2 separate regions of the Homo sapiens genome follow, and region 1 is linked to region 2. Evidence: fine-mapped expression QTL. A gene starts in region 2. The other region holds a variant in brackets. All regions are shown on one strand. Distances are from middle to middle. Region 1 has its middle 2.5 kb from the start of S100A8. Region 2 holds the start of S100A9 (S100 calcium binding protein A9).

Region 1 (4,390 bases), 36 kb after region 2:
CCCTGAAACTGAATTGAAGTTGAATGCATCATTTTGAGTGCATGCACTCAGTGAGAACATTCCTCCATGGCTTCTGTCAGAGTTTCAAAGGGTCCAAAGACCGCAAAAGGGTTGAGAACACGTGTCCTGGCTGATGGCTTTTAGTCATGAGAACTATTGTTCTCATTACTAAAAACTAAAACTATCGTTGTTGTTCTTTTGGGTGGGTGCTTTGTGGGGAAATGTGTTGTTGCCAAGGGCTATATCCATTCCTACCCTGCTGCCCACACTCCTCCACAGCTTTCCTGTTCTGTGAAGCTGGGGATGGACCATGCCCTGGGAGATGGAGGCTGCTTGGGGTCCCTCGGCACTTCACAAGGGCCTGAGCCATTGCATAAACACAGCAGGGAGCCTTTCACCCTCTCTTGGTTAATTATTGTGTCTGGGACCCCAGGATCACTGGCTGAAGAGAGGAAGCTAACTCTGAGGTAGTGGAGGGGAAGAGTTCTTTGGAGAAGCCAGACGCGCTTCATGCCTAAGAGGAGAAGAGGAGGTGGCCAATTCCCCAGGATTTCAGGAGGAACAAATCCTCTCCCCACCACTAACAAAATGCTACTCAGATTAACTGGCTTCCAACCTTGAAGACTGTGGTGTGTTTCTGTTGTTACAAAGAAAATATTTGTAAAACAAATATCTGATAAGGGATTAATATCCAGAATATAAAAGAATCCCTACAACTCAACAACAAAAAACAAACAAACCAATCAAAAATTGGGGAAAAGACTCAAATAGACACTTCTCCGAAGAAGATATACAAATGGTCAATAAGCATATGAAAATTACTAATCTTTAGGAAAACATGAAGCAAAACGACAATGAGATACCACCTGACACCTACAAGGATGACTACTACTTCTTTTAAAACCCAGAAAACAAGTGTTGGTGAGGGCATAGAGAATTGGAAGCCTAATGCACTGTTAGTGGGAATGTAAAATAGTGCAGCTGTTATGGAAAACGGCAAGTTTGTTCCTCAAATAAATAAACACAGAATTACCATATGATCCATCATTCTGCTCCTGGGTATATATGCAAAAGAATTGAATGCAGGGATTCAAACAGATGTTTGTACATTCATGTTCATAGCAGCATTATTTACAAGAGCCAAAAGGTGGAAGCAACCCAAGTGTCCCTCAACACATGAATGGATGAAGAAAATGTTTTGTGGGGACATGTGTTGTTGCCGAGGGCTAAATCCATTCCTACCCTGCTGCCCACACTCCTCCACAGCTCTCCTGTTCTGTGAAGCTGGGGATCCACCGTGCCCTGGGAGATGGAGGCTGCTTGGGGTCCCTCTGCATTGCACAAGGGCATGAGCCATTGCATAAACATAGCAGGGAGTCTTTCACCCTCCAAAATAAATCCAGCTCTCTCTGGATGTGAGCCATTGGGGACCCAGCACAGTGCCCAGCACACACAATAACAGCAGCCACAATCACTGATCAGAGCAAATCATGACAAAATACTAGTTCACACTCACTGAGCTTTTCCCATGTCCGGGAACTATTCTAAGTGCTGCTTTATTTGCATTGATCATTTAATTCTCACACTAATCCAATGACGTATGTACTATTATAATGCCCATTGTACAGATGAGGAAACTAAGCCCCACAGAGAGACATAGTAATTCAGCGTATCAAATGATTGAGTGACTCATGATGTGATGTGACAGCATCCACTTCCTATTCCTGCCTGTAATGCCTTTTGTCCCTGTAATGTCCTCCTCACCATTCCTGATCCAGCTCAGGCATCATCTGCTCCAAGTCCATCCCTGATCCACCTGCCCTCACCCCATCAAGGCAGAATTAGTTCTTCTCTCCTCCATGCTACCCAAATCCTTACCCATCACAGCATTTGCCCTGCTATGTTATGATTCACTTGTTTATTGTCTGTCTTTTCTTTGGGACCAGGAGACCATTTAGAAAAGAAATCACATTTCTTTTCACAACCCTAGGGCCTGGCAGCTACTACATGTTCAATTAATACTTATTGAGGGATAAATGAATACAAAATTAAGTTTGACCCTTCCCTTATCCAAGGCAGAAATTCTCTTTATCACAATCAGCCATCTTAAATCATTTCTGGAAGAAGGCAGGGTATAAATTCATCAAACAAATGCAGTCTGACTTCCTTGACAAAAGATGAATCAAGCTCCATCTAGGAAAACAACGCCATTTCTGACATGACAAGTTTTCAACCAAGGATCCACCCTTGGTTAATACCTATTATTCACCACGTACTATCCTATGTGACCAGCATAACAGCACCTGCCTCAAAGCACCATATCATATTTTCAAAGTATTTTGCATCCACTGACTCATTTGATATTCCCAGCAACCTAGTGATGTGGACATTACAAGTATAATTATCCCTATTTGACAGATGGGGAAACTGAGGCACAGGGCATTACTTCAGGTCCTTCCCCTGGTCCAGTGAGGGAGTCCTGAGTGGTGACCTCCTTCCCACATCATGTACAGGCTGACCAGCAAGATCGTGAAATGTCGCCCCCTCCCCAGAAACTGCGCCCCTGGACAGCCTTGGGTGCTTTGGGGACAGCAGGAGCCAGGCTGAACTGACCTTGCAGCAAAAGGTATCAGGACTTGGGTAAGCACATCTGGGGAAAGGCAGAGGCTGTAAGCAGCCTAGCGGACATGGGGCAACCTAGAGGGAG[C/T]GGAACCTGGTCATGTTTACAGGAAAGGGCTCAGTCCCTGGGTGTGTCCCAACAGACCTGACAGGTCCATCCCTGAGGCCAAGGAAATGAGGACAGAGCAGGCAGAGCTGGTGAAGAAACCCCCAGAAGGGGGCAGGAGAGGGCAGGGAGGGCTCAGGCTGGGTGCCCCTGCTTCGTACTCAATGCCTGTGGAGCCCAGCACTTCTCAGGTGAGACAGGTATTTCTCCCCTGGGCCTGCAAGAAGAGTGGCCAAAGTAACTCAGGCGATGGTCTTCATGCCTCTAGACACAGCCAGGGGCCTGCAGGAAGGAGCACAGATCTAGGTCATCAATTCCAGCCCCACAGGCCCCAATTCTGCATTCCTTCCCCAAACACCTGCTGAGCGTTTATGGGGACACTGAGGTCCTGTCTCGGCGGAGAGTACAAAACAAGCACAGTGTGGCAGAAGATGCCCTTCCACAGGAAAGAATGCAAAGGGGAATGGGGTGCAGACATCTCCCAAGGAATGGAGGGCCCAGCTAGGTCCTGAAAGGCAAACTAAGCTGATGGCAAGTGTGGGAGGGACAGCAGGCCAGGCCCGGAGCAGCAGGGGCAAATTCTGCCCCAGAGCCTGACTGATGAGAAACAAGGTCTCCAGCTCAGCTCCAGGGACAATCCACCATGTTTGGCGCAAAGGACCAGGTGGGGAGGGAACCAGACCAAGTTTCTTAAGTGACCCTGCAGTCCTGTGCGCAGGTGGTATATCACCCCCCAACACTCTTTCAAAATCCATGATTTCTATCTCAGTAAGCTCAGGACACCGGTTCCCAGACCAACCCTCAGAAAAGACAACCCTCTAAAGTGGGCTCTGGCATTTCCTGAAGGCAGAGGAGACCCTCCCTAAGGGATTCTGCATTAGATCCCTAGAGTCCCAGGGGAGAGGAAAAGGAAAAAGAAACAGAGCAAGGGCAGGGACAGGTCTCAGGTGGGTGGGGTCAGGGATACCGGAGGACTCAGATCAGTGGTTCATGAATAGCCCTGGGTCAGGAGTAACCCTCACATCCATCATCATGTTGTAGAAAAAAACAGACCCAACCCTTCTCTCCCTCAGGAAGCCTTCCTGGGTTGACTGTCACCCAGGTTCTACTCATTGCTCTTCCCTTAACATGTGTCTGTGGTTCTGCCAGGCTGGATTGTTGGCTCAGCTCCTGTCAGTGTCTGACTCAGCATGTGCAAACCCAGCACACAATATTCCCTGCAGACTGGCTCCCACCCAGGCACCGAGGTCCCATGCCAATCGCCAGCACCTGAAACCTCCACCTCATTCTGGATCCTCCTCTCCCTCAGTCTGCGCCCAGGTCTGGACCTTGATGTTCTGCCTTTTCTGATGCCGCCTCCCTCCCTTCCGTCCCCATGAAGCTGTTTACCTCCTCGTCACAGCCTCTAGCCAGGCTGTGCAGGTCTGATCTGTCTTCCTCCACCCCAAACCCCTACCACTAGTTTCCTAAAGCACAGAGCTGGTCCCAGGGCCCTCGCCCCTTCCCCACACTTAACAACTAAGGATCCCTTACCAAAAGGATAAAGTCCAAATTCCAATGCTCAGTTTTCAGGGACTTCCAGACTCTGGTCCTAACCCACCCATTCAAGCTGACTTCCTACTGTTTTCTCCATGAACACTAATTTCCAAGCAAAATTTCTGTTGC
Region 2 (4,390 bases):
GAGCTCCATGACAAAGCAGAGATGCCTGCCGCACACCATCACTCAGGGTTTGAGTCACACACACCCTGCTTCATTGTCATGCTTTTTTTGTTTTTATTTTAAATTAATGGACAAATTGTATTAAACAGGAATTTTCATATAAAGCTTCAGATGTCCTGGGCCCTCAGGAGGTCCAAGAACATCTGGTCTACTTTCCCACGTGGCAGCCCTGGCCTGACACTGGCTGTCCCTTCAAGGTAGGAACGTTCTCATTCCCCACAGTTGCCACCACTGTCCAGTGTCCCCAACCCTGAGGCCCCATATCAGTGGCCACAAGTTGCCCTACTGCTGCCGTTGATGTTCTCATGCCCCACCAGCTTCACCTTGGGTCTGGTTCCCGCAAGGGTGAGTTGGAGATCCTTGGTCCTGAGTGAGAAGTGCTTTGTCAGAGGCAGCAGAGGGCGCCATGGGAGCACACAGGAAGGGCGCCTGGGGCTGTGCAGGGACTGCAGAACAGGCTGCACTGGCACACAGGGTTGGCTGCTGGCTGCTGGCTGCTGGCTGCTGGCTGGGTTTCCTCTATTAGCTTAAACAATGGAAGGTGGACTTGGATAGGAAATCTACCTCATGTATTCCTGAGCTGTGTCTGCACCGTTCATTCATTCGTAGGCGACTCATGTATTCAAGCACTCATTTATTTATTAGATGCTTGCTGTGTGCTTAGCACTGTGCCAAGCCCTGTCCTTAGCTACCAAGAGTTTAAAACGTAATTTGGAAGACAGGATATAAGATTATGTCTCCCCTTTGTATTGCGACTCACTCATCAAGTTCTCCCAGCATCTAGCATTCATATCTGGCACTCAGTAGGTGCTCAACAAATATTTGTTGCATAAATGAATGAAAAGATTATTAGTAATAATACCTTTTATTTACTGAGCTCTTCCCAACTTTCCATGTATTGTCGCAATCCTCAAGGTAAGTCCTGATATTATCCTATTTTATTGATAAGAAAAGTAAGGCACAGAGAAGTTAAGTAAACTGCCTAAGGTCACACAGACAGTCTGAAGTCTTAACCACTACTCCAGGTGCATCTCAGCAGTGTGAGGCAGGCCATGCTTAGGGCCAATGCTTAGCACACACAGAGATTGCCTCAGGCTTTCAGAGGACAAAGCAGTCAGGAGGGGCTGGGGCAATAAAGGAAGGCTTCATGGAGACAGAACAAAATAACCAGTGCAGGTAGAAGAAGAGAACCATCTTTCCTGATAGAGAGAGGGGGCAGCAAGCAAGAGGGAGTCCCAGGGTGGATCATCCATACTGGCTTCCAGGGGTGACGGGAAAGGATGCCAGCAAGGACTTCAGCAAGGATCAATCAGCAAATCCGAGGGTGTCTCTCTTGCCAAGCCCCGGGCTGTGTGCATAGGAGAAGGAGAACATGAATGAGAACCTACCTTTGAGGATCTACAGCCAATTGTTGGACAGAGGCAAAATATGTATATAATTTTACTCCAGGAAAGCAAGTGTTGAGAGCCAGAAGTGGTATGAGAATCATAGTCAGGAAGACAGAAACTGTTTCCAAATGGGAAGCACAGAGCAGTCTCCTTGGAAGAGAGTGCATTAGAACTGAGCCGTGGGGGCGGGCAGGATATCACTGTGGAGTAGGGGAAGGGCACTCCTGGGGTGGCAAGGTGGGAGGTGGGCCCTGTGTTCCCACAGTGGGCAGGGAGGTAGTGAAAGGGAAGCTGGCCGGACAGGCAGGGCCATTCCAAGAGGGCTTTGTGCGCAGGGCTAAGCCAAGCTTTCTCCATAGGCAATGGGGAGCAACTGGAGGTTCGTAGCAGGAGAAGGACACATCTTGCCCACCAGGAGGCTAAGTAAAAACAGTTGTCTCCCAAGTTATAAGTTCCTGGAACCCTTGCTGGGAGCAGGATTTAGAAAAATGATGCTGAGAGATGCTAGAAACATATTCGCCCTGAGGCTCTCTCACTCAGACTGCAAGAGGAAGGTATCATCAGAATTGCCCTTAACCAGGAACCAGAATAGCTGGGTCCCCTTCCTGCCAAGTCAGCAACCAGCTATGTGACCTTGCTCAGGTCCATCTCCGGGTGTCAGTTTCTTCATCTACAATGCAAGAGGGTTGCCCACCTCTGAGAACCCTTCTAACCCCAAATCTCACCCTATGAATCTAAGAACACCAACCCCTCGCCATCCTAAGTATCACAGAGCCAGGCAAGCATGGGTGAGAGCTCAGACCATCCTTGTTGGACTAAAAGGAAGGGGCAGACTGCCCATGGGGGGCAGCCGAGAGGGTCAGGCCCCCATAGGTCCTCAGCCTGCTTCAACCTCAAAGGGGATGGGGGGCTGAGTGGTGCCAGAGGAGCAGCAGGCTCGCTCGGGGAGAGTAGGGCCTTAGGATAGAAGGGAAATGAACTAAACAACCAGCTTCCTCCCAAACCAGTTTCAGGCCAGGGCTGGGAATTTCACAAAAAAGCAGAAGGCGCTCTGTGAACATTTCCTGCCCCGCCCCAGCCCCCTTCCTGGCAGCATTACCACACTGCTCACCTGTGAAGCAATCTTCCGGAGACAGGGCCAAAGGGCCAAGTGCCCCAGTCAGGAGCTGCCTATAAATGCCGAGCCTGCACAGCTCTGGCAAACACTCTGTGTGGCTCCTCGGCTTTGGTAAGTGAGCTGCCAGCTTCCCCAGGCAGAAGCCTGCCTGCCGATTCCTTCTTTCCTTCCCTGACCCAACTTCCTTCCAAATCCTCCTCCTAGAAGCCCTCCTTGGTTGGCCCTGCCTACTTTAAAGCTTCTTTCACATTTTCTTAGGTCATGTTCCCCTGGGGCCTCCTGCCCTCAAATGCTTTGCTTTTTGGCACTCTGTAGATATTCTAAAAAATCATTTTGTACATGTGTGTGACAGGCCATCTCCCAGTTAAGTTGCAGCCTGTGCTTTCTTTTTATTTTGCACTTCCCCCACTATTTCTGTGAGTGCTTAGTAGGAAGTGTCAAAGAAGCTTGACAGCATTTTCTTCTAAGTGTCCCAACTCTTGGTTTTCCATTACACAGACAGAGTGCAAGACGATGACTTGCAAAATGTCGCAGCTGGAACGCAACATAGAGACCATCATCAACACCTTCCACCAATACTCTGTGAAGCTGGGGCACCCAGACACCCTGAACCAGGGGGAATTCAAAGAGCTGGTGCGAAAAGATCTGCAAAATTTTCTCAAGGTAGGGCTGGACTCTGGCAGGTCTGACCCAGCCTCACCGCAGTTTGGGTTGACAAGGGAGGATGGGAGTATGGGCTACAGCAATCAAGGGGAAGATTTGAGCTCCTGGAGCCCAGCCCCAAGACGCAGCGAGTGTCCTGTTATACAGGGCAGGTGCTCACAGTTACACAGGACGACAGGGTCAAGAAATTGCTCAATTGAACACCTGCTATTTGTCGGGCCCTGTTCTGGGCAGAGGGATGTAGTGGTAAATGGGGAGCCCACTATTCCAGTGGAGGGAGACACACAGTAAAGTTGTTGGCCAATAAAGAGCACAGATAAAGCCAAATGCCAATAAGTGCCTGGAAGAAAATGAGATAGAGTGCGCTGTGGGCAATGGGGCTGGGTGGGGTGGAGGTGACCAGTTAGGGTACATGAGAAGGGCCTCTTTGAGGAGGTAACATTTGAGCTGAGCCCCGAATGTTGGGGAGGGAAGCCCCTGAGGATGACACTTGGCACAAAGCTGAGGAGACCCTAAGCCTCAGGCGGGAACTTGGGGTGGAAGACTTGGGGGCTTTTCTAATCCTAAGGGTCTGCGGTGGAAAATGAATGCATAAAGAGCACATGGAGAGCACCTGCACAGCACTCAGGGAACTGGGAGGTTTTTCCCCCGCTCCAAAAATGATTAGGCAGTTCTAAGAAAAAGGCTGAGCACTTCCAACAGCCTTTTTGTTTTCTTTTCAAATTTGGGGAAAGTCGGGAAACAGAGGCCTGCATTAAGAAGGGTGGAACACATGGGTCTCAGTCTCAGTTCCAGTCCCGGAGCCAGACATCCTGGGGTAGGTCCCCAGCCCTCCCAGTGCCCCTCCCTCCGCCTTGGTAAGGTGGAGAATTGCAGCCTTCAGAGTTAGGGGCCCTGACAGCTCTCCATAGGTGGAGGCCTCAGGCAGGCAGGATGCTGGGTGGGGTAGGCAAGAAAGGGCCCAGCAGAGAGGCCGCATGGCAAAACTATCCTCCATGTGACCCCCTATGCCCGCTTCACCCCCCACCTGACATCCCCCACCAGAAGCAAAGCGATGCTGTGGGAAAGGAAGCAGAGCCTCATGGATGGGCTGCACAGGAGAGTGCTCGCATTGGCTGGGTACCCCACAGGTTCTGGGAGGGGACTTAGCGAGGTGACTCAGCCAGAGGGTGGCAGAGCTGGA

What was found. PIP is the estimated chance that this variant, and not a neighbour inherited with it, causes the effect. A credible set is the group of variants that fine-mapping cannot tell apart.
Region 1: its variant is the best candidate, but not a certain one, in a credible set for the expression of S100A9 in whole blood (TOPMed, PIP 0.66).

Annotation. Positions count from the first base shown.
Region 1 is chr1:153,391,424-153,395,813 of GRCh38, forward strand. It overlaps a transcript of S100A8 not described here. Among named protein-coding and RNA genes, the nearest start is that of S100A8, 2.5 kb to the left of the region's middle. The variant C/T (reference allele first, on the strand shown) is at 2,708.
Region 2 is chr1:153,355,227-153,359,616 of GRCh38, forward strand. It overlaps S100A9 (S100 calcium binding protein A9), which reads left to right and starts at 2,628. Exons shown (of 3, transcript NM_002965.4): 1 at 2,628-2,655; 2 at 3,043-3,207. The coding sequence starts at 3,058.